3 separate regions of the Homo sapiens genome follow, and regions 2 and 3 are each linked to region 1. The links come from fine-mapping of genetic effects on gene expression. A gene starts in region 1. Each other region holds a variant in brackets. All regions are shown on one strand. Distances are between the middles of the regions. Region 1 holds the start of BATF2 (basic leucine zipper ATF-like transcription factor 2). Region 2 holds the start of PPP2R5B (protein phosphatase 2 regulatory subunit B'beta). Region 3 holds the start of CATSPERH (catsper channel auxiliary subunit eta).

The links. PIP is the estimated chance that this variant, and not a neighbour inherited with it, causes the effect.
Region 2: its variant is fine-mapped to the expression of BATF2 in whole blood (TOPMed, PIP above 0.99).
Region 3: its variant is fine-mapped to the expression of BATF2 in whole blood (INTERVAL, PIP 0.90).

What each region holds. Positions count from the first base shown.
Region 1 is chr11:64,992,930-65,001,102 of GRCh38, forward strand. BATF2 (basic leucine zipper ATF-like transcription factor 2) reads right to left here and starts at 4,042. Exons shown (of 3, transcript NM_138456.4): 1 at 3,947-4,042; 2 at 1,519-1,620. The coding sequence starts at 3,985. RefSeq lists an enhancer at 3,441-3,941 and a cis regulatory region at 5,186-6,324.
Region 2 is chr11:64,923,578-64,931,750 of GRCh38, forward strand. It overlaps PPP2R5B (protein phosphatase 2 regulatory subunit B'beta), which reads left to right and starts at 1,112. Exons shown (of 14, transcript NM_006244.4): 1 at 1,112-1,451; 2 at 1,894-2,356; 3 at 3,135-3,331; 4 at 4,225-4,326; 5 at 4,489-4,581; 6 at 4,718-4,848; 7 at 6,745-6,804; 8 at 6,904-7,012; 9 at 7,859-7,912; 10 at 7,982-8,032; 11 at 8,172-8,173. The coding sequence starts at 2,158. RefSeq lists enhancers at 73-870, 491-560, 701-870, 3,819-5,018 and silencers at 981-1,200, 1,301-1,410. The variant G/A (reference allele first, on the strand shown) is at 3,715.
Region 3 is chr11:65,084,737-65,092,909 of GRCh38, forward strand. It overlaps ZFPL1 (zinc finger protein like 1), which reads left to right. Exons shown (of 8, transcript NM_006782.4): 2 at 1-64; 3 at 379-490; 4 at 1,679-1,872; 5 at 1,984-2,056; 6 at 2,192-2,338; 7 at 2,580-2,697; 8 at 3,192-3,662. The coding sequence ends at 3,378. It overlaps CATSPERH (catsper channel auxiliary subunit eta), which reads right to left and starts at 4,374. Exons shown (of 3, transcript NM_001282448.2): 1 at 4,122-4,374; 2 at 3,915-4,014; 3 at 3,640-3,795. The coding sequence starts at 4,295. The coding sequence ends at 3,719. RefSeq lists an enhancer at 205-789 and a silencer at 5,160-5,332. The variant G/A (reference allele first, on the strand shown) is at 4,275.

The DNA of each region.
Region 1 (8,173 bases):
GGGAGGATTGCTTGAGCCCAGGAGTTCAAGACAAGCCTGGGCAACATAGCAAGACCCCCATCACTATTAAAAAATAAAGAATATGAAGAAATAAAAAAGAAAGAATAAATAAATAATAAATGAATAAAAAATTAAAACAAAAGGAGGGGGCCAGGTGCAGTGGTTCACGCCTGTAATCCCAGCACTTTGGGAGGCTGAGGCGGGCAGATCACTTAAAGCCAGGAGTTTGAGACCAGCCTGGCCAACATGGTGAAACCCCGTCTCTGCTAAAAATACAAAAATTAGGTGGGCGTAGTGGCGCATGCCTGTAATCCTAGCTACTCAGGAGGCTGAGGCAGGAGGATCACTTGAACCCAGGAGGTAGAGGTTGTAGTGAGCCAAGTGGCGCCACTGCACTCCAGTCTGGGCAACAGAGTGAGACTCTGTCTCAAAAATGACAACAACAACAAAAATCCCAAAAAGGAGAGGAAGGGAAAGAGATCACTCTGTCCTCTCACATGCACTGAGAGGCCATGAGCACACAGCGAGAAGGCAGCCACTTACAAGTCAGGAAGAGCACCCTCATCTGGAACTGAATTGGCTGGCACCTTGATCTTGGACTTCCCAGCCTCCAAAACTGTGAGAAATAAATGTCTATTGTTTAAGCCACTGTTTATGGTATTTTCAGATGAGCATGAAGCTCAGTAAAGGAAGCAACTTGCAACTGGGACTGGAAACCCTGCCCATTTTAACCCTGAACCAGAGTTCTCACAGTATGGTCTTGGTCACCTCCTGAATTCTGACCCCCAGGTGATTAATCACAAATCACCGTGCAGGTCCCTGGGCCCACCTGGCCTCATGAGGTGGGACCTGGCAGAGGAAGAATAATCCACTTTTTTTTTTCTATAGACAGGGTCTCAATCTGTTGCCCAGGTTGGATGCAGTGGTACAATCATGGCTCACTGCAGCCTTGAACTTCTGGGCTCAAGCGATCCTCCTGCCTCAGTTTCCTGAGTAGCTGGGACTACAGGTGTGCACCATCACGCCCAGCTAACTATTTTTTAATTTTTGTAGAGACAGAGTCTCACTATATTGCCCAGGCTGGTCTTGAACTCCTGGGCTCAAACAATCCTCCAGCCTCAGCCTCCCAAAGTGCTAGGATTACAGGTGTGAGCCACAGTGCCCAGCCTGGAATCTGCATTTTAACCAGTGTCTCAGCTGGCCATTGTGTTGGGGTCTCCCTATTTGCCTCCACTTCCTGTCTTCCTTCCCCTAGACTGCGGACACCTTAGGACACGGCTGGGCTGAGGATGACCCTTTGTGTCCCTGGAGCCTGGTGTGTACCTGGCACATGGTTTGTACTCAACACCCAGAACTTTCCAAATGTCAGCCACAGGATCCTTTTCTCATCCCAAACTCAGGTGACCTAGAAAAATACAGGAGTTTGGGGGAGGTCTGCTCAAAGGTGGGATGGAGAAGAGGTGGCTGGGCCAGTAAGTGGAGCCAGAGACAAGGAAAGGGGTTAGGGGTTGTCCACACCTGGTGCAGGGCGTCTGCCTTGTCTGTGTGCTTCTGCCGGCTTCGCTGGGCGGCTGCCCGGTTCTTCTGCTTCTTCAGCTGCCTTTGTTGCTCCTTGGGGTCCTGTGGGGCATGAGGCAGAGGACTCAGGGGGCCCAGCCAGGCCTTGTGCCCTCCGTCCTGGCCCGCCATTTGTAAAGCCAAGTCTTTCCCCTTGAGTCAAGTTCCCAAGGGTCTTTTATCTCCCAGAAGCTCCCTTGGCACCCACACCCCCTATAGCAGGCACTGCACACCTTGTTGGAACGCCAGCCTCACCCCTGTGTCCTGCTCACCGCTCATGTGGAGGGTGGGAGGGCAAGCAGGGAAGATGGGAAGCCTGAGATTCAAACTCAGACAGAGCCAACTTCAAACCCCACATTCTTTTTTCCTTTTTTTTTGAGACAGAGTCTCACTCTGTTGCCCAGGCTGGAGTAGTGCAGCGGCTCTATCTTGGCTCACTGCAAACTCTGACTCCCGGGTTCAAGCAATTCTCCTGCCTCGGCCTCCCAAGTAGCTGGGACTACAGGCACCTGCCACCATTCCTGGCCAATTTTTGTATTTTTAGTAGAGATGGGGTTTCCTCATGTTGGCCAGGCTCATCTCAAACTGGTCTTGAACTCCTGACCTCAGGTGATTCACCAGCCTCGGCCTCCCAAAGTGCTGGGATTACAGGTGTGAGCCACCGTGCCCAGCCGAGCCCCATATTCTTGAACCCAATCGCCCCATCCCTGCAATGGAAGCACCACAGCAGAGGGTTAAAGCCCATGCGGCAGGCAGCCCAGAGCCGGCGTGCCATAAAGCTCAGCTTCCATTCTTCTCATTGCCATGATTTCCACACCAAGGTGTGAACTTTCCTAACTGTGAGCTCCATGAGGGCAGATGTGGTTCTCTGTGCTCATGCCCAGCTCAAGCCCAAAGCAGATATTCACTTACTCAACAAACATGTATAAGCACCTACTATGTTCCAGGCAGTAAGCTAGAGGGACATGATAGCAAACAAAATACACACAAATCCCTGCCCTGAAATTGCTCACATTGTAGTGGGGTGGTAGCGAAGGATGAATGAATGAAGGGTTTATTCCGGTGGAAGAGTGGACTCAAAGGTTGTGACCACCTTGTACCCTGGGATCAATGAAACTTAGATAAAATATTTTACCCAAATGTCCAGAGCTCTGCAAAGTCAGAGCAAGAGGGACTGTTGGAGAGCTCACAGCCCAGCCCCCGCCCCCAAGTCTCTCTGGGGTATGTGTTTTGAGGGTAAGGACCTCAGGCAAGGCCCTGGCCGCCCTGGCTGCAGATTCTGAATGCTCCTAGGCTCCTGCTCCATATGCTCCCTTGGGCCATGTCCACAGCGGGCTCACTGTAGACACTGGGGCACCAAGAAACTAAAGGCTGAGACAGGACCCACGGTGAGTGAAGGGGGCTCCTGTGAGATAAGCAGAGCCTCCAAGGGAAACCATGGCCCAGGGAATTTATTTATTATTTTACTTTATTTTATTTTATTTTATTTTATTGAGACAGAGTCTCTGTCGCCCAGGCTGGAGTGCAGTGGCGTGATCTTGGCTCACTGCGACCTCCGCCTCCCAGGTTCAAGTGATTCTCCTGCCTCAGCCTCCTGAGAAGCTGGGATTACAGGCATGTGCCTCCACCACGCCCAGCTAATTTTTCTATTTTTAATAGAGACGGGGTTTCACCATGTTGGCCAGGATGGTCTCGATCTCCTGACCTCAGGTGATCTGCCCGCCTCAGCCTCCCAAAGTGCTGGGATTACAGGTGTGAGCCACTGAGCCCGGCCTATTTTATTTTATTGAGACAGAGTCTCTCTCTGTCACCCAGGCTGGAGTGCAGTGACATGAGCTCAGCTTACTGCAACCTCCATCTCCCGGGTTCAAGCAACTTTCCTGCCTCAGCCTCTCGAGTAGCTGAGACTACAGACGTGCCCTGCCACACCTGGCTAATTTTTGTATTTCTAGTAGAGACGGGGTTTCGCCATGTTGGCCAGGCTGATCTTGAACTCCTAACCTCATGTTATCTGCCGGCCTCAGACTCCCAAGGGGCTGGGATTACAGGCATGAGCCGGCCTGGGTTATTTGGAGAAGGAAGGAAAGGCTGCTGTGAGTGTAGTGAGGGGGGACCAGGTACGTTAGGAGAGAGCAAGTACACAGAGGCCAAGTTCTAAACCGAAGGCTGGATCTGCAATGTGAGAGCTGGAAACAACTCATTCCAATCCAATCCCGACTTCGGGGGAGGAAAGTGAGACCCAGAGAGGGGCATGCAGAGCCCTCTGTCACACTGCTCAGAGTATAGAGCTGGGACTAGGAGCTCCCGACTGCAGCCCTCACTGCCTGGGCACTGAGGACGGGATCCCAGCTCCCCTTCTCATCCCCGATCCCCAATCCCCTGTACTCACTGTCTGGGTCAGCAGCCCATTGCCCCCACAGAGGTGCATGGCTTAGGCGGGGGAGCAGAGTGGTCCCTCAGCAGCTGTGACTTCCCAGTGCCCTCTGGAGGCCTAAGGAAGTGGCAGCTCTTTAAATCCCCAGTGGCCACTCCGCCCCCAGAGGGCCAAGTTTCAGTTTCTCCTAAAGCCACCAGCTGCTCAGAATCCCTGGCTCAGGCTTGCTCACGTGGCTAGAATTTCCTAACATGAACTGGCCTTCCGGTTGGGCCCCTTCTCTGGAAAGAGGATGGTGGAGGGTGGAGAGGAGGGAAGACCAAAGGCCAGGTATGAGGAGGGTGTTCTAGGGGAGGGAGGACAGGCGGCCAGGGACTGAGATGAGAGAAGAAGCCAGTGGGGACCGATGCTCATGTGGGGTAGAGAGAGCCCTTGAGCTCTGGAATTGGGGGAACTCTGGATCACAGCACACATTGGAGCTGTCCAACTTTCAGAAAGTGACTCTCCTTCTCTGAGCCCTAGTTTTCTCATCTGGAGGATGGTACAACTACCCACTCCCAGGCTCATTGCAGGAACTAAGCCAGATAATACAACCACCCCCAAACCTTCTGAGACCACTATGGAAGCATGTCTGCAAAATTAAGCAATGGCTGTTGGATAGAACAGATGGATACATTACTGTTTTCATACAACAGACCATGAAGCAGTGGAAAGATTGATGTCCAGTGGTTAGGAGCCCAGCTTCCAAGCTATGTGACTTGGGTTCGTAATTTCATCTGTGTTTCTGTTTCCAAATCTGTAAAGTGGGGATAAAAACAATTTTGTTAGGCCAGATGCAGTGGTTCATGCCTGTAATCCAAGTACTCTGGGAGGCCAAGGCAGGAGGATTACTTGAGCTCAGGAGTTTGAGACCAGCCTGGGCAACATAGCAAGACCTTATCTATATTAAAAATAAAAAAAATAACTGGGCATGGTGGCACACACCTGTATTCCCAGTTACTCAGGAGGCTGAGATGAGAGGATCACTTGAGCCCAGGAGTTCAAGGCTGCAGTGAGCTATAATCTTGCCACTGCACTCCAGCCTGGGCAATAGAGCAAGACCTTGTTTCAAAAAAATTAATTAATTAAAAATTAAAAAATAAAGACCTAGCAAACCCTGAAGCCCCGGGCATACCTGCATGCTTGTTGTATCTCTAAGAGGGACACTTGGATGGGGCATCTGTTTGGGGGCCAGAGGGGCCAGTAATTCCTGTCCAAGAACAGCATGCATGCAGTATGTAGAGTCCTATGGTCTGGTGACTAGAGCATCTTGGAGTTGTACCTGAGACCTGAGGGCTCATGGCTGATGATGTGGTATCACAAGAATGGCAAATACAGATATGATCTTCTGATAGGTGATGGTGGCTGGAATGTTGTTTTAAAGAGTTCATGGACACCTCTGAGCTTAGTAAAAAAGAGTACTGCAGTTGATTAGCAATGTCTGCCACACCATGATCGATTAGTGATGCCTGTTATGGGCAGAGGTGTGGAGAGTGCAGTCCCCTGCTATCCCTAGAACCAGGCATAAAACAAGTCTGGGTTTCAGAGACAAAAGACTTGACTCTCCATCCTGGCACTCCACTCACCCAGTTTATCACCTGGAGCCTCAGTGTCTTCAAAGATATGCTGGTGATCACAAAGAAATGATACCTATTTGACAGTTGTTTTGAAGATGGGAAAGAATGAGATGAGAAGAAAGCTCTTGGGATATTGTAAAGTACTATGTGGCAAGGATTCCCCCTCCTGAAATTTGTGGTGTCATATTCTGGATTCTAAGATTATTAATGCAGGCTCCTAATTTAAAATGCCTGGGTGGGTGAGATTGGGCATAAGAGCTGGGCCTTGCCCTCCTAGCTTCTGAGGGGCCTGGGAGCAGAGGCGGAAGTGGGATGCCCCACGCAGTGAGGCCATCCCTGTTTCTCTGAATTATTGTTTCCTGGAAACCAGGAAGGCTGGGGCGTCTTGCCTGAGGCAGGCACCTGAAGGGCTCATTAAGCCAGCCCATGAGCTCCCCTGGGAGGATCTGCAGGCACCTTGTGCATGATGTGACTACGAAGAAACACCCGTGTGTGCTTGTGTGTGTGTGTGTGTGTGTGGAGGGGCTAGGCCTGAGTGTCCCACTCCAGATCCCAGCCCCTGCCCCAGACCCCCAGTCTTTCTTCTCCAGACCCTGGCTTCTGGCAGAGGTGAGACAGCAGGTGTAGCTCTTCCCAGAACACCACAGCCCTGGGAGAAGACCAAAGAAGGCAGCGTTTATGGCTCCCTGAGGAGGCAGCTGGGAGAGGGAGTGGCAGGGAGGGAGGGAGGTAGGGTGGGTAATGTTTAACTAGGAATGGCTGTGGGAGACTTCTCCCAGGCTGGTGGGACCATCCAATCTGACCTCGCCTTAGACGGTGTCTCAGTCAGCTCAGGCTGCTATAATGCAATACCAGAAACTGAGTGGCTTAATGACAGCCTTTTATTTCTCGCAGTTCTGAGGGCTGAGAAATCCAAGAGCAAGGTGCTGGTAGGTTTGGCTCCTGGCAAGGCCTCTTCCTGGCTGGAAGATGGTGGCACTCTTGCCGTATTCTCACACGGTCTCTCTGCCTTCTTATAAAGACACTCATCCCATTGTAGGGTCCCACCCTCACAACCTTATCTAAGCCTAATTACCTCCTGAAGGCCCCACCTCCAAATACCATCTTACCAAGGGTTGGCACTTCAGTGTGTGAGTTTGGGGGGGGAACACAAACTTTCAGTTCATAAAAGAGGGTGAGGAAACTAATGCCCAGAGGGGCAAGGTCACTCCACGGGAGGGGCAGAGCTGCAGGGAGAACACAACCTCTCTCTTCTAGGCCTCAGTCCTGCTCCACACTCTGCTTGGAAAGGCCTGGTCCATTAGTCCAGAGCCAGCAGCCCCAGTGGGTGGAGGGTTGGAGGCCTCCCAAATACCACAGCTACCAATGAGCTCCTACATGGCAGGACTGGTTCTTTGAAGGATCCCCAGTGCTTCAAACACTGCCTTCACGTAATAGATGCTCAATTAATGAATTAATTAATTAAAGTCCAGCAGGCAGCTTGCCACCCAGGAACCCCAAAACTTTCCTGAGGAAAGAAACTTTTCACTCATTCCCATAGGACCTGCCCTGGGTTCCTGGTGGGCTCCCCCCAACCAACTTCATCATTTCACCAATGAATAAACTGAATTATAGGGAAGAGAAAGTCACACCACTGTTTTGGGAGAAGCCAGAATGCCCTGAAGCCCTGTCCCTTTTTTTTTTTTTTTTTGAGACGGAGTCCCACTCTGTCACCCAGGCTAGAGTACAGTGGCACAATCTTGGCTCACTGCAACCTCTGTCTCCAGGGTTCCAGTGATTCACCTGCCTCAGCCTCCCAAGTAGCTGGAATTACAGGTGTACGCCACCACACCCACCTAATTTTTTGTATTTTTAGTAGAGATGGGGTTTCACCATGTTGGCCAGGCTGATCTCGAACTCCTGACCTCAAGTGATCTGCCAGCCTCAGCCTCCCAAAGTGCTGGGATTACAGGCGTGAGCCATTGCACGCGGCCTGTTTTTTGTTTTTTGTTTTGAGACAGAGTCTTGCTCTGTCTCCCAGGCTGGAGTGCGGTGGTGCGATCTCGGCTCACTGCAACCTCCGCCTCCCAGGTTCAAGTGATTCTCCTGCCTCAGCCTCCCAAGTAGCTGGGATTACAGGTGTGTGCCACCATGCCCAGCTAATTTTTGCATTTTTAGTAGAGACGGGGTTTCACCATGTTGGCCTGGCTGGTCTCAACCTTAGGTGATCCGCCAGCCTTGGCCTCCCAAAGTGCTGGGATTATAGGCGTGAGCCACCGTGCCTGGCCAATGGGGATAATAATAGAAGGATTTAAGTAATTTATGTAAAGGGCTTAGAACAGTGCACAGCCCACAGTTAAGTCACATAAACATCTGTTAAACTTAACAAAGGCACTCAATACATATCTGATTAATTTTTATTCACGTAACAACAGGCTTGTGTTTCCCTCCCTCCCTCCCTCCTTTCTCTCTCTCTCTCTCTTTCTTTCTTTCTTTCTTTCTTTCTTTCTTTCTTTCGATGGAGTCTTGCTCTGTACCCAGGCTAAAGTGCAGTGGTGGGATCTCAGCTCACTGCAATCTCTGCCTCCTGGGTTCAAGCGATTCTCCTGGCTCAGCCTCCTAAGTAGCTGGGACTATAGGCAGGCAC
Region 2 (8,173 bases), 69 kb before region 1:
AGGCGGACACCTCTTGCGCACCCAGGCTTCCTCTGCAACCGGGAGGATGGCTGGGTGGTTCCGCTGGAGCACTGAGTGGTCACCAAGACCCAAAGCAAGATGGGGCAGACTCTGAAAAGGCCCCTAGTCCCCTCCCCGACCTCATTATCTGGTCTCATCACCCTTTCCTACTGCTCACCATGGACCAGCTGCTCATCCAGGCAACATTTCAGGGTGGAGATTTCACAGCAGTGTAGCGGGATGGAGTTCAGGGCTATAAAGAGTGTTGGGGTCCAGGATCCTAGGACGGGGGCCCAGGACTGCAGGCTGGGAACTTTTGGTTAGCATGCCAAACTCCTGGACTCCCACCTGTGCCTTGCATGCCAGCAGCAGGATTTTGAGCAAGAGACACTGACCCACCCAGCACATCTTAGGGTCCAGGGGGGCTGAAAGGTCCATCCGGGAAGGCCAGGCTGCCTGGGATGAGGTGGCAGCTCAAGGAGAAAACCTCCTCCTCTCGGGCTTTGCCACTCCAAGACTGGCCCTTTAAACTGGAGACCATGATGTCACCATAGACAGCAAGGGACGGGAGGGGGACTGCAGGCCTGAGGATGGACTGCATCTCCCAGCAGGCTTGGGTGCACCACACCCCTCCCAGCAAGCACTGACTCATCGCAGACTTTTAACTAGTCCAGTGCTGGTTTCCAAGGGGTTTCTGAAGTGTCTGGTGGTTCTGGGGTAAGGGTGAGGTTCCTGGGGGGATGGCCTAGGGCATAGAAGGCCCAGGCCAAATCTGTGGGCCTAGCGTAGCTTGCTGCGACTCCTTCCTGTCAGTGTCCTGGCATCACCCTACTTTCCTGGTGCAAACTCCTAAGCCCTCCTCTTTCCCTATGCAGCCTCCCTTCTAGAATCCAGGCTTCCCGCCCCCGGCTAGAGCCCATCCCACTCTGCTCTCTGGCTTCAAAAGCTTCGGCCTTCACCCCCGAGTCTGCCCTCAGGGGTGTCCCCTTTGGTCTGGCAGCTCACTTTAAACGGCGCGGGGACTACATCTCCCAGCGGCCCCGGGCCTTCCTGACGCAGCCCCCCCTTTCAGCCCGCGGGGAGGTGCGGGCCGGGTGGGGGGAGGTGACTTGATGTCATCCTGAGCAGCTGGGCGGCGGGTGCCGGTGCGCACGGAGCCGAGCCGGGGCTCCCGTTGCGCTGCACCGCGTTGGGTCGGAGTCCCAGGACTTCAGCGGAGATCCGCGCGCTGCGACGGCCGGTGCAGAGCCCGCCGAGCGCCCAGTCCCGGCCCGGGGCTGAGTTGGGGGCATGCTCTAGCCGCCCCCCCGGAGCCCGGGAGAGAACCCAGGAGCGCCGCCGCCCAGCCCCAGCGCCCCGAGCGGAACCGCTGCGAAGGGGCCCTGAACGGCCGTCGCCCTCCCTACGGGCAGCCCCCGGGGGTTGGCGACCGAAGTCTAGGTTTTCGAGAAGTGAGTGTCCCCCACCCCATGAGGTTTGGGGGGCCAGGAAGGAGGAGCTGAGGTGGGGGAGGGTGCCAGGTTCTAGGAGCGGGGTGGCATCGGGACAGCACCTCCAGTCTTGGGGTTGTCCCAAGTGGCCGGGATTAGTGGAGCAGCGATGCGTTCCATTCTGAAAGGGGCAGGGATGACGATCGGGGCTCCATTCTGAGTCGGGGCTGGCTTGGGGGATAGGCCCTATTCTGGGAGGGGTTGTTTTGGAGGCTTTCTGTCTGAGAGAAGGGAGGGACATGTCCAGGATGGGAGGGGGCTGCACCCCTATTTTAGGGTCTGGGCAAGGATAGGAGGGAAAAGACCTGGGCACTCCACGCAGCCTCCCGGCTCTCCTGAGGAACTGATGGGCTTTCTCTGTCTCTTTCTTGCTGATCTTTCTGCCTGACTTCGTTTTCAAAAGAGCCAGGGTGGGAACCCTAACTGGACTCTTCGGGACCCCCAGGAAGGATCTGAGGCCTGAGCCATCCTCCTTTCTACCCTGTCTGCCCCCCAGGACTGGGCAGTTGCAGGAGGCCCTGGGGGGGGGCCCAGGACTGTGGTTGTGCCCCCCCCCCAAAGGCCGGACAGGATGGGACCAAGTTAGTCTGTCCAGTCTCACCCAGCACCTCCCAGGCCCAGAGAGAACCCCCGGGGCTCTGAAAGCTTGCCCTGCCGCCTGACCGCCATGGAGACGAAGCTGCCCCCTGCAAGCACCCCCACTAGCCCCTCCTCCCCCGGGCTGTCGCCTGTGCCCCCACCCGACAAGGTGGACGGCTTCTCCCGCCGTTCCCTCCGCAGAGCCCGGCCCCGCCGCTCCCACAGCTCCTCTCAGTTCCGCTATCAGAGCAACCAGCAAGAGCTCACACCGCTGCCCCTGCTCAAAGGTGAGCTGGCTGCTGGCCACTGGGGGAACCGAACCCCCGAGGGGACCAGCAGGGCCATGGGGAGGGGTGGGAGGCAGCGGGCAGCTGCCAAGAGAGAGAGTTTGGATACCCCTCCAGGCTAGGTTCTCCGCCATCAGAACTGACCCCAGCCCTCCAGCCCTCTCTGCTGACACATGGCCTGACTGGCCTGTCATCCTTAGAGGTGGGACATCCGAAGGTGGTGCCACCCTAGGGGCAGACCAAGGCCAAGGGTGGGGCCCATAGCCTGGGTTCCAGGGGGCCACTATCAGCCCAGCCAGCTGCCAGATCCCTGGAGCAGGCGCTTGGCAGGGTTCCCTGGGATCACCACATAGGTCCCTTCCCCAGCCTTGGGCCATAGGGCCAGACTGGCCAAGCCTGAGGACACCGTAGAGATCCTTGGCCCTGAACCCCTCCCCATTTCTGGCCCTTAGAACAGGGTGCCACCTGAGAGGGAGGCAGCAGCTGTTTGGGGCACCTGTGGAAAGCTGCTGCATCCAGGATTTGTGATCTTGCTTTAAAACTCAGGCCATCATACTCTCTGAGCCTGGATTAGGAGGAAGAAAAGCAACCCTCAACCCCCAGGAATGGAGGAAGGGACAGTAGTTGTTTGCTGTCTGCAAGGAGCAGGAGATGGCACAAGAGCATGGGGCCTGGGGGCAGCAGAGGCAGCCGTGGAGATTAGGAGGGTCTGCCCCACCCACAGCTGGGGCAGCTGGGGGAGCTGGGGCCCAGGCCCAGGATGCCCTCTCCTCCCCAGATGTGCCGGCTTCCGAGCTGCACGAGCTGCTGAGCCGGAAGCTGGCCCAGTGTGGGGTGATGTTTGACTTCTTGGACTGTGTGGCCGACCTCAAGGGGAAGGAGGTGAAGCGGGCAGCCCTCAACGAGCTGGTGGAGTGTGTGGGGAGCACCCGGGGTGTCCTCATCGAGCCCGTCTACCCAGACATCATCCGCATGGTGAGCACCTGCCACCCAGGCTCCGAGGGCCGGCCGAGAGGGCGTGTGAGCCCCGTTTCCTGTCCGCAGGACCCCTGCGTGGAGAATAACCCTGTACTCATCGGCTTGGCCTCAGTCCACGTCTTCCTTCCCCCCGACCTGCTGCTGCCCAACACCCACTGAATGCCTCCGGGCCTGCCCCACGTCCACACCTTTGCTTATGCTTGCCTGAGACCTGGAGTGCCCTGCCCCACACCCCATACCATCCATGGCCTGGCTCAGGTGCCGCCTCTGCCAAGAAGCCGCTGTCAATAACCAAGCTGGAAATCTCCCTTTTCCTGCCCGTAGACCTCACAGCTTCTAGCCTTGTTCTCCCCACTGGATTGCACCTGCCTAGAAGGCAG[G/A]GATGTGTCCCATTCACCCCTGGGTTCCCAGCCCCTGGCCCAGGGCTTGCACGAACTAGGCGTTCAGGTGATGATTGCCCAAGGAATGAACTGCTTGCTGGGGCAGATGCTGAAATCAACCCATTAGAACTTTGAATGAGGGCCGGGAGCAGCAGCTCTCATCTGTAATCCCAGCACTTTGGGCCAAGGCGAGAGGATCACTTGAGGCAAGGGGTTCAAGACCAGCCTGACAGTGAGACCGCATCACTACAAAAATTTAAAAATTTGCCGGGCATAGTGGTGTGCTACTGTAGTCCAGCTACTCAGAAGGCTGAGGTGGGAGGATCGCTTGAGCCTGCCTGGGAGGTTGAGGTTGCAGTGAGTCGAGATTGTACCACTGCGCTCCAGCTTGGGCAACAGAGCGAGACCCTGTCTTGGGAAAGAAAAAAAAAAAAAAAGCTTTGAATGAGAGACTCCCTGGCTTCTGTCTTCAAGGGCTTTTCCTTAATGAACCCCAACTCTGCCACTCAGATCTCAGTGAATATCTTCCGGACTCTGCCGCCCAGTGAGAACCCTGAATTTGACCCTGAAGAGGATGAGCCCAATCTTGAGCCTTCGTGGCCACACCTGCAGGTCTGAAGGGTTGGGGAAGACAGAGATCCAAGTTTCAGAAGAGATCCAAGGCATGGGGAGAGGGCCTCCTTAGCCCCTAGACAGTTGGATGAGGGCCATAGGGTGGAATGAGTGGGTGAGGCTGTTACTGAACTCACCTTTTTGTCTGTCCCCCTCCCCCAGCTGGTATATGAGTTTTTCCTGCGTTTCTTGGAGAGCCCAGACTTCCAGCCCTCCGTGGCCAAGAGATATGTGGATCAAAAGTTTGTCCTGATGGTGAAGTGGGGAGCCCAGGCTGGGTGGTACCACAAGGCAGGGGCAGGCTCTCTGAGGGGCCAGGGATAGGATGGAAGCAACCTGGGGTGGACCTTTCCCCTGACCCTGACCCTGACCCTGACTCTGGTTCCCACAGCTCCTGGAGCTATTTGATAGTGAGGATCCCCGGGAGCGTGAGTACCTCAAGACCATCCTGCACCGGGTCTATGGCAAGTTCCTGGGTCTCCGGGCCTACATCCGCAAACAGTGCAACCACATCTTCCTCCGGTGAGTGGCTGCTGCCTGCCCAGCAGAGACCTGGGGAGGGTGAGAGGGCTGTTAGAAGACTGCGGCAAAGGCCATGTGCGGTGGCTCACACCTGTAATCCCAGCACTTTGGGAGGCCGAGGTGGGTGGATCACCTAAGGTGAGGAGTTTGAGACCAACCTGGCCAACATGGTGAAACCCCGTCTCTAATAAAAATACAAACATTAGCCAGGCATGGTGGTGGGCACCTGTAATTCCAGCTACTTGGGACGCTGAGACAAGAATTACTTGAACCCAGGTGAAACCCCGTCTCTACTAAAAATACAAAAAATTAGCCGGGCGCGGTGGCGGGCGCCTGTAGTCCCAGCTACTCGGGAGGCTGAGGCAGGAGAATGGCGTGAACCCGGGAAGCGGAGCTTGCAGTGAGCCGAGACTGCGCCACTGCAGTCCGCAGTCCGGCCTGGGCGACAGAGCGAGACGGATGAACCCAGGAGGTGGAGTTTACAGTGAGCCGAGATCATGCCACTGCACTCCAGCCTGGGCAACGGGGAGACTGTGTCTCAAAAAAAAAAAGAAAAGAAAACAAAAAAAAAGAAGACTGCAGCAAAGGCTCCTGGGCTGCAGGGGCCCTTGTAGAACTTCTGTTTTCCAAGCCCTTTCTCAGTAACGTATTACATATTGATTATACAAAGCCTGTGAAGTTGACAGAGAATGGGTATTTATTTCCATTTTACAGATGAGAAAGTAGAGGCCAAGAGAGATGAAATGGTTTGCAGGGACTGGGTCAGTCCAGGGGCCTAGGAGCTAAATCATTTGACCCTTATCATGCCAGGCCATAAGGACCCAGAGAGAGATTCTTTCTGCAAACATGCACTGAGCACCAGCACCCACTGGGCATCAAGGCTCACGTGGCCTTGTAGTTGAGACCATGGCTCTGAAGCTGTATGGCCTACATTTGAGTTTGGTTCCAACGTTTGGGTGAACTTTGGCAAATTACTTAAGCTCTCTCCTAGTTTGCTCGTCTTTAAAATGGGAATGCTGGCTGGGTGCAGTGGCTCATGCCTGTAATCCCAGCACTTTGGGAGTTGGAGGTGGGCAGATCACTTGAGATCAGGAGTTCAAGATCAGCCTGGCCAACGTGGTGAAACTCCGTCTCTACTAAAAATACAAAAATTAGCTGAGTGTGGTGGTAAACACCTGCAATCCCAGCTACTCAGGAGGCTGAGGCAGGAGAATCGCTTGAGCCTGGGAGGTGGAGGTTGCAGTGAGCCAAGATTGCGCCACTGCACTCCTGCCTGGGCGACAGAGCGAGATTCCATCTCAAAGATAAGATAAAAATGGGGATGCTGCTTGTACTAACTCAGGGACCATTATCGAGGTGACATGGGGCCTTGCCTGCAAAGCACTCAGCATAGCTCCTGGACTGAGGCCGGGACTCTGAAACATTAGTTGTTATTAGCTACAAAATGGGTGAGCCATGATCCCTGTCCTCCTGCACCTTGGAGTTCATTAGATTCCCTGCCTATTAACATTGGGGTTGTTTTATTTAACCGCTGAGTCTTGATTTCTTCATCCATGTGATGGATTTCTTAAGCCCCATCTCCCTGGATAATTCTGAGACTTACATGGTACGGAGTAGATGTGCTAAGTGTTTGTCATTCTCTTGGTTGACTGGCAAGAGAGCCTTGAGCTTGGGACTCAGTGGCAGAGGTGGCTGGGCTGAGAAGGGCATTTCAGTGTGGGGGGGCGGGGATCTCAATGGGGCCTGGTTTGGGATGTTGGGAAGGGAGCGCAGCCTCTGGGTTGGGGGAGAGTTGGATGAGCGTGCCGTGCAGGTGAGGGTGGGCAGGCAGGATGCCTAAGGGGGCACTGGGCCTACCCTGCTTGCTTTGAGCCCACCTGCGTTCTTCTCTTGCAGGTTCATCTATGAATTCGAGCACTTCAATGGTGTGGCTGAGCTGCTGGAGATCCTAGGAAGGTGATTCTCCCTGGGCCTCAGCTGGAGCTCAGGATTCTGGAAGGAGGGACTGGGGCCAGGTCACCTGAGCCCTCTTCCTCTCTTCTGCCTCCTCCTCAGCATCATCAATGGCTTTGCGCTGCCCCTGAAGACGGAGCACAAGCAGTTCCTGGTTCGCGTCCTGATCCCCCTGCACTCTGTCAAGTCGCTGTCTGTCTTCCATGCCCAGGTGAGGCCCAGGCCTGTCCCTGCTGCAGCAGGAGCTCCAGACAGTCAGGGCAGCCAGTGGGTCCTGGAGGTCAGATCCTCCAGGGATCCTATCTCACCTTCTTTGTCTTTATAATTCTGTTCCATCTACCTTAGAAAATTCCCACTGGCGCTTTAAGGCTAACCTCAGATATCAGCTCTGTGAAGCCAGGCTTTTCTTCTCTACCCTCCCTTGGCAGAATTACATTCTTCTCCATCTATATTCCCAAATATTTGGATACACAAATCTATTATGGGAGATTTTGATACACAATTTTTTTTTTTGAGACAAAACCGTACTCTGTTGCCTCAGCTGGAGAGCAGTGGTATGAACATGGCTCACTGAAGCCTCTACCTGCTGGGCTCAAGCAGTCCTCCCTTCTCAGCCTCCCGAGTAGCTGGGACCACAGATGTATGTGCCACATGCCTGGCTAATTAAAAAAAATTTTTTTTTTGTAGAGACAGTGTCTTGCTATGTTACCTAGGCTGGTCTCAAACTCCCAGGCTCAAGTGATTCTGCTGCCTCGGCCTCCCAAAGTGCTTGGATTACAGGCGTGAGCCACCACACTAGCCATATTATGGAACCTTTTGCAAAATTTATAAAGATGAGTTTGTTGACTGTCCCCACTCCCCGCGAGATCAGAGTTGTATTCCCAGCACACTGAATGTGATGCCTGGTACATCCTAGGCAGGTGATAAATGCTTGGTGAATAAGAAAGTAACAGGCCGTGGGTGAGCAGTATTTGGCATTCTGTCCTGGACAGCAAGTCCTTGGCGCCTGGTGCCTTCCTGACCTGTCTTCCTTCCCTCCACCTGTCACCCCCTGCAGCTGGCATACTGTGTGGTGCAGTTCCTGGAGAAGGATGCCACTCTGACAGAGCACGTGAGTACCTCTGGGGGCTAAGGCAGCCTCTCACCTCTGCAGGCGTGACTCCTGTCTCATCTCCCACAGGTGATCCGGGGGCTGCTCAAATACTGGCCAAAAACCTGCACCCAGAAGGAGGTATGAAGAAGGGCTTTGATGCCCGCCAGAGGGAGGCTGGGAGGGCTCGGCCTCTAGAAGGCAGTCAGGTGTGTGTATGTGTAGGGGGAGATGTGAGCTGCTGCCCCTCTGTCCCTACTCCCCTCCCCAACCCACCCAGGT
Region 3 (8,173 bases), 92 kb after region 1:
CCTGTTCTGCTTCGAACATCGGGTCAACGTCTGCGAGCACTGCCTGGTAGCCAATCACGCCAAGGTGGGGCCTTCAGGGGAGCGACTGAGCAGGGCACTGGGTGGGCAAGGCGGTATTGGCTTCCTCCAAATCCATGAGGGGCCCCGCGCTAGAATGTAAGCCCCACAAGGGCAAGGACTTGATTTATTTTGTTCACTGATATATCCCCCGTTCCCAAGAGAGAGTCTGGTGCACAGTATGTGCTCAATAAATATTTATTGATTAAACAAACGAAAGGATGAGTCTCCTCTGTGGCTAGAGAAAAAGAGACAGTCGGACCTTGGGGTGATAGGCCGAGCAGCCCCAGCACCAGTTGTGACATCTCTCTCCCACTCCAGTGCATCGTCCAGTCCTACCTGCAATGGCTCCAAGATAGCGACTACAACCCCAATTGCCGCCTGTGCAACATACCCCTGGCCAGCCGAGAGACGACCCGCCTTGTCTGCTATGGTGAGGCCTTGGCACCTCGGGGGGATCAGGCCAGCCTCAGGGGCCAGCTTGGTGACTGGTTTCCAGGCCCTCCTCAAGCAGCAGGACAGTGAGTCCCCCGAGTCTCAGAGCCCAGATTCTAGTCCTGTTAAAGTTCCTTACCTGCTGTGTAAGTTCAGGCAAGTTATTCTTCCTTTCTAGGCCTCACTGTCTTTCCTAAAAATTAAAGCTCCTAGTTCCTCTTTCCTAAAAATTAAGCCCTGCCAATCTGGAGGTTTCAGCGAGAACCAGTCAAGCTTACGGGTATGCTGGTGGCCGTGACTATTAGCTAGCCAGACCGGCATGTTGCTTTCAGATATTCAGGATCCACCACTGATTCCAAGGCTAAACAGAGAGGAAGTGAGTTTCCCACATTAAAGTTAGCTAAAAGAAGTCAGCAGACATATGTGTCATGACTTTGACCTGAATCTGGGGTAAGAGCCTTAGCTCCAGTTTTTGAAGGAGCTCATGCAAGAGTCAGCTCCATATGTGTTTCTCCTTGTGAGTGCATGTGTGTACTTGCAGGCACTTAATGTACATTGTGTGTTTAAATGAGTGTTAGTGTGTTGATCTGTACTTGGGGTGAATGAATGGGTAAATGTATGTATGTGAACATATGAACACAGGTGTGTTGTGGGAGTGCAAGAGAATGCATGGTTGAGGGTGCCTGTTAGCAAACCTGTGAGTGTATAGATGTGTATGTGTGAGGGCTCCTGTACCCATAGTGTAGATATAGGGAATGCCACTTGTGTTTGATTATGTGCTTATAAGGACATGTACATTTGTGCCCAGGGATGTGTACATGTATATGTGTGCCTGTGTGTGTATCGAGGAACCTTTTCTGAAACTGTTCATTATTAGCCATTAGCCCAAAGAATATGATGAGTGCAGGCCCAGAGAGGACTCATTGAAAGGACTGAAAGGGGAGGTGGCGTTTTCTTCCTACCCAAACTTACCCCTGTGAGCTGGACAGCTTGGTAGCACCTGCCTGGACTTAGATGGTGGTAGCCAAGAAGACTGACATTTTAGGGAACAGGACGGGGAGGAGAAGGCTCTGGCACACACACATGTGTCCATATGTCCTGCAATGGTCTGGGGACTATTGCTAGGCTAGGAGCCCTAAGTGTCTTCTTCCTCATGTCTCTTCTCCCCTGTCTCATGGGCCCTAAGATCTCTTTCACTGGGCCTGCCTCAATGAACGTGCTGCCCAGCTACCCCGAAACACGGCACCTGCCGGCTATCAGTGCCCCAGCTGCAATGGCCCCATCTTCCCCCCAACCAACCTGGCTGGCCCCGTGGCCTCCGCACTGAGAGAGAAGCTGGCCACAGTCAACTGGGCCCGGGCAGGACTGGGCCTCCCTCTGGTGAGAGTCCCTCGTCTGTCTGACCATCTATCTGCCCTGGGCCCCACCTGAGTCAGATGGGTGGGTGGGGACAATACTAGGCAGCCTGGTGACCCAGATTCCTTCCTCCAGATCGATGAGGTGGTGAGCCCAGAGCCCGAGCCCCTCAACACGTCTGACTTCTCTGACTGGTCTAGTTTTAATGGTAAGTGGTGGCTTCCACCGACTGTTTGGGCTTTAGCCTCCCTGCTCTGCTGACAGCTCCCTTGGTCTGCAGTCACATGCTCTACCCCTGAGCTCTATGCACTGCTTCTGCTGACGGCTCTCTTTCCACCCACAGCCAGCAGTACCCCTGGACCAGAGGAGGTAGACAGCGCCTCTGCTGCCCCAGCCTTCTACAGCCAGGCCCCCCGGCCCCCAGCTTCCCCAGGCCGGCCCGAGCAGCACACAGTGATCCACATGGGCAATCCTGAGCCCTTGACTCACGGTGAGCCTGGGAGTTATCCAGGCCGCAGAAGGATAGGAAGAGGGTGGAATGGTTTGTATAGGGGGAGCTTGAGGATCCAGAGACCCACCCGGAGGAACCTTTCCTTAATCCAGGCACAGCCATTACCTCCTCACAATTCTGAGATGTTCTGTCAGACTGAGGAGAGCAGGTGATCCCCCTAGCCCTCCCCAAAGCGGCCAGTTTTCCTGAGTCTATTGATGCTAGTGGCTCCACCCTGTAGCCCCTAGGAAGGTGTATGATACGCGGGATGATGACCGGACACCAGGCCTCCATGGAGACTGTGACGATGACAAGTACCGACGTCGGCCGGCCTTGGGTTGGCTGGCCCGGCTGCTAAGGTACACAGGGTCAGGCAGGGCGGAATGCCAGGAAGGGGTGGAGAGGGAATGGGAGCCAGAGGTCCTGGAAGGGATGGTTTCATGACAAAAGGGGCTTGTTCTGGGGAGTAACAGTACCTGGTGCTGGGGCTGTGCAGAGAGGCCTTGGCTGTGCAGCAGAAGCTGTGTTTTGCTTCTCTCTGGGACTGTCTCTATGCCTCCTACACAGGAGGTTTGAACTCAGGCTCTTTGAGGCCCCTTCCCGATCTGACACCCCCTAATCTTTGTAATTCTCCCCGACGTCTGACACACTGTGGTTTCCAGAATACAGTCGTGCGCCTCAGCTGGTTTGAGCTGCACAATAACGCCCTATGGTGGCAGGTGCAGGAGTGATCATCCCTGAGGCACAGACGAGGAGATGGAGGCTCAGGAATGGGTGGTGACCAGGGCTTCTCTCCAGCCGCGGGGGCCACCAGGGACTGGGGCCTGACCTGATTTTCCCCTCATCCCCCCAGGAGCCGGGCTGGGTCTCGGAAGCGGCCGCTGACCCTGCTCCAGCGGGCGGGGCTGCTGCTACTCTTGGGACTGCTGGGCTTCCTGGCCCTCCTTGCCCTCATGTCTCGCCTAGGCCGGGCCGCAGCTGACAGCGATCCCAACCTGGACCCACTCATGAACCCTCACATCCGCGTGGGCCCCTCCTGAGCCCCCTTGCTTGTGGCTAGGCCAGCCTAGGATGTGGGTTCTGTGGAGGAGAGGCGGGGTAATGGGGAGGCTGAGGGCACCTCTTCACTGCCCCTCTCCCTCAAGCCTAAGACACTAAGACCCCAGACCCAAAGCCAAGTCCACCAGAGTGGCTGCAGGCCAGGCCTGGAGTCCCCGTGGGTCAAGCATTTGTCTTGACTTGCTTTCCTCCCGGGTCTCCAGCCTCCGACCCCTCGCCCCATGAAGGAGCTGGCAGGTGGAAATAAACAACAACTTTATTAAAACACCCGAGGCAGCCTTTTGCTTCCCCCTCCTTAGCCCTGTTCCGACTCCCCAGGCCTCAGTGGTGCTCCTCCCGGTACTCGATGGCCAGAAACTCCAAGGACAGGCGGTTGAAGAACATGGCTCCGTTGAGCACTGGGCGGGGGACAGAGCCCCCCATGAGCCCCAGTACCCTTCCCTGGCTACTCCTTGCCACATCTCAGGGTTCCAAAGCTCCCCGCTCCCTCTTGCACCCTCCCACTCCTGCCACTCACTCAGGATGGTCAGGGCGGAGAAGCAGACGTACTTGTTTTCTGTCATCTCAGCATAGAGTGACCCCATGGCAGCCCAGCAGATGCTGATCACCTGGGAGAACTGTAGGCCCATCCAGTGGGAGAGTGGCCCCCTCGCACAACAGTGGGGTTTCCATCAGCCCCTCGGGTCTCCCACAGCCAGCCCTTGCGTCCCTGCCCTGAGCCTACCATCAGGACGACCGTGTAGTGAAAGCTCATGTGGTCATAGTGGTAGGTGATGCAGAAGTTGTGCACGTCTCTGATGAAGATGCCCAGGTGTAAGAAGAAGAGCATCAGCGCAGCCGTGGTGAGCATCATGCCTTTTGGGAAGAAGAACGTGGC[G/A]ATGCGGTCTTGCAGCCACATCTTGCCCGCAGTGTAGATGCAAGTCAGACTTGAGAGCTGGAGCAAGCAGGCCCTGCCCAGGAAAAGCAGCAGAGTCTCTGGTTCTAAAGTGCCTGGTATGGAATAGCAGTGGGATTCTAGAACCAGGAGGACAGTGGAGGGGACAAGATTCTAGAACACAGGCTGATTCCAGCCAACACAGGAGTGCCTCACGGGTGGTAGGGGTGCTTTGAATTGTGAGATCAGTGGGGGCCCATGGCAATGGCGAAGGGGCAGCAGCCCTAGTTATCCCATACTCACTCTAGACGCTTTTATGCATGTCTCAAGTTTCCCAAAACGGAGGCAGTGTGAACACAGTCTACAGATGAAGAACTGGGGCTCAGAAAAGTTGAGGGGCGTGGTCTAGATTTACAGCAAGTCTTAGGCAGATGAGAGATGAGGACCCAGCTGCATAGCTGGAAGGCATTCCCAGGTGAGGGGAGGCCTGTATTTGCTCTACCCTCTGGTGGAGAGGAATTACGAGAAGGGAAGGATCAACAGATTCTTCAGAGCTGTCCCGGGACCTTCCCCGTGCCCTTCCCAGGTGTGGCCCAGAAGGCACCTGGCTTTTCCATTCTCTCCCAAGATGTTCTTACAGGACCTGATGCTGGTCAGCTTTCTGCTCCGCCACCTTCAGGTGCTTGGAGCATTTTCACCTCTGTCAGTCTAAGAGTCCCATGAGACAGCTGGGGCTGGTGGCATAAGTCCTATTTGACACTTGAGTCTGAGGCAGAGGGAGGATGGTCTTCCTCAAGCTGTTATAGCCAGTGAGGGAGAGAGTCAATACTGAAACGAAGATCCGATACTACCTGAGGCTGTGCTGAGTGAGCAGGGTCACATGCAAGCCAGGAGGAAGAAATCTCCTCCATGCATGTGAGAGATGAGAACTAGGCTGGGTGCGGTAGCTCACACCTGCAACCCCAGCACTTTCAGAGGCCCAGGTGGGAGGACTGTCTTGGGCCAGGAGTTCAAGACCAGCTTGGGAGACAGCAAGACCCCATCTCTCTCTTTTTTGAGATGTAGTTTCACTCTTGTTGCCCAGGCTGGAGTGCGATGGCGCGATCTCGGCTCACCGCAACCTCCGCCTCCTGGATTCAAGCGATTCTCCTACCTCAGCCTCCCAAGTAGGATTACAGGCATGTGCCACCACGCACAGCTAATTTTGTATTTTTAGTAGAGACAGGGTTTCTCCATGTTGGTCAGGCTGGTCTTGAACTCCCAACCTCAGGTGATCCGCCTGCCTTGGCCTCCCAAAGTGCTGGGATTACAGGTGTGAGCCACCGCTCCTGGCCAGCAAGACCCCATCTCTAAAAAAAAAAAAAAAAAAATTTGCTGAGTGTGGTGGTGTGTGCCTTTAGTCCCAGCTACTCAGGAGGCTGAGATGGGAGGATTGCTGGACCCCAGGAGTCCCAGGCTGCAGTGAACTATGATCATGCCACTGTACTCCAAGCTGGGTGACAGAGAAAAAAAGAAAAGAAAAGAAAAAGGTGAGAACTCCAGGGCCGTCAACAAAATATGCCAATAAAACAGCCAGAAATGGTGTGGAGTGACATGAAAGCTCCCAGGGATTGAAGCAGGAGAAGAGGAGGGAGGAGGAGAGGACTTGATTTCGAACTCAGCCACCCCACTGCCTCCTGCCCAACTGTTTGCCCCAAAAGTTAGGTCCCAGGTCAGCCCAAGACCCACAGGCTGCCTCCCAGCAGTGGGATTAGAGCCTGCACCCACCATCTGTGCTTGCTGCCCAGTCTCCAGACAAGCACAATAGTTCTTCAGAGCCCCATCCTAACCACATGAAAGGGGTAATGCCCCAAGGCCCAGCTGTGGTCCCACTGTTGAAACAATTGTTTGGACCTCAGTCCTCATTTGAATACAAATGAACTTTTATACATTAAAGTTCCTAGCTCCTAATTTTATTTTATTTTTGAGACAGAGTCTCACTCTATCGCGCAGACTGGAGTGCAGTGGCATGATCTCGGCCCACTGCAACCTCCGCCTCCCGGGTTCAAGTGATTCTCATGCCTCAGTCTCCCAAGTAGCCAGGATTACAGGCGCCTGCCACCATACCCAGCTAATTTTTGTATTTTCAGTAGACATGGTATTTCACTATGTTGGCCAGGCTGCTCTTGAACTCCTGACCTCAGGTGATCCACTCTCTTTGGCCTCCCAAAGTACTGGGATTAGAGGTGTGAGCCACTGTGCCTACCCCTAGCTCCTAATTTTTAAAAATTATATACATGTAATATATGAATATGGGCTGGGTGCGGTGGCTCACACCTGTAATCCCAGCACTTTGGGAGGCTGAGGCAGGCAAATGACCTGAGGACGGGAGTTTGAGACCAGTCTGAACAACATGGAGAAACCCTGTCTCTACTAAAAATATAAAATTAAGCTGGGCGCAGTGGCTCACGCTTGTAATCCCAGCACTTTGGGAGGCTGAGGCGGGCGGATCACGAGGTTGGGAGTTCAAGACCAGCCTGACCAACATGGTGAAACCCCGTCTCTACTAAAATACAAAAATTAGCTGGGTATGGTGGTGCATGCCTGTAATCCCAGCTACTTGGGAGGCTGAGGCAGGAGAATCACTTGAACCCAGGAGGCAGAGGTTACACTGAGCCAAGATCGAGCCACTGCACTCCAGCCTGGGCGACAGACCAAGACTGTGTCTCAAAAAAAAACAAGAACAAAAACAAAATTAGCCGGGCATGGAGGCGCATGCCTGTAATCCCAGCTACTCGGGAGGCTGAGGCAGGAGAATCGCTTGAACCTAGGAGGTGGAGGTTGCGGTGAGCCGAGATTGTGCCATTGCACTGCAGCCTGGGCAACAAGATCAAAACTCCATCTCAAGAAAAAAAAAAAAAAAAAAATATATATATATATATATACACACACATATATGTATGTATGTATATATGAATATGTTCTTGTAAAATATTTGCATAATACACAAGCATGCAGAGGAAAATGTAACAGTCTCCCTGCTGCATCCCCACCACTGAAGTACCCCCTTCCCCAGTTTGGTGACTTGGCATCTTTTAGGTCCCTTCTTTATGTAACGGTAACTTCATACATCTAGATGTACATATACATGCATAAGTTTAAAGCATTTTTAAAAATCATATGTTTTGTCAAAGTGTACTTTTCAAAAAGTTAAAACCTACGTCTAAATATAGAATGAACACGTAACAAAGATTTATTAGGCCGGGTGCGGTGGCTCATGCCTGTAATCCCAGCACTTTGGGAGGCTGAGCTCCCAAAGTGAGCCTGAGAGGATCACTTGAGCTCAGGAGTTTGAGACCAGCCTGGGCAACATAGTGAAACCTCCTCACTACTAAAAATTAAAAAAAAATAAAATTAGCTGGTTGTGGTGGCCCTTGCCTGTAGTACCCCCTACTTGGGAGGCTGAGGCGGGAGGGTCATTTGAGCCCAGGAATTCGAGCCCTGCTTGCATCTTTGCAGTCCGGCCTGGGGGCATAGTGAGACCTTGTCTCAAAAAAAAAAAAAAAAAAAAAAAGATCTTTAACTCATCAGTGAGGGGATTTCCGCTTGGTAAGGTGGTAATGCACATGAGGAACTGGACAGGACGAGCATTTAAAGAGGAACGTTAGGCCAGGTGCAGTGGCTCATGCCTGTAATCCTAGCACTTTGGGAGGCCGAGGTGGGCGGATCACCTGAGGTCAGGAGTTCGAGACCAGCCTGGCTAACATAGTGAAACCCTGTCTCTACTAAAAATACAAAAAAACTAGCTGGGCATGGTGGTGTGCACCTGTAATCTCAGCTACTCGGGAGGCTGAGGCAGGAGAATCACTTGAACCTAGGAGGCAGAGGTTGCAGTGAGCTGAGATCGCGCCATTGTACTTCAG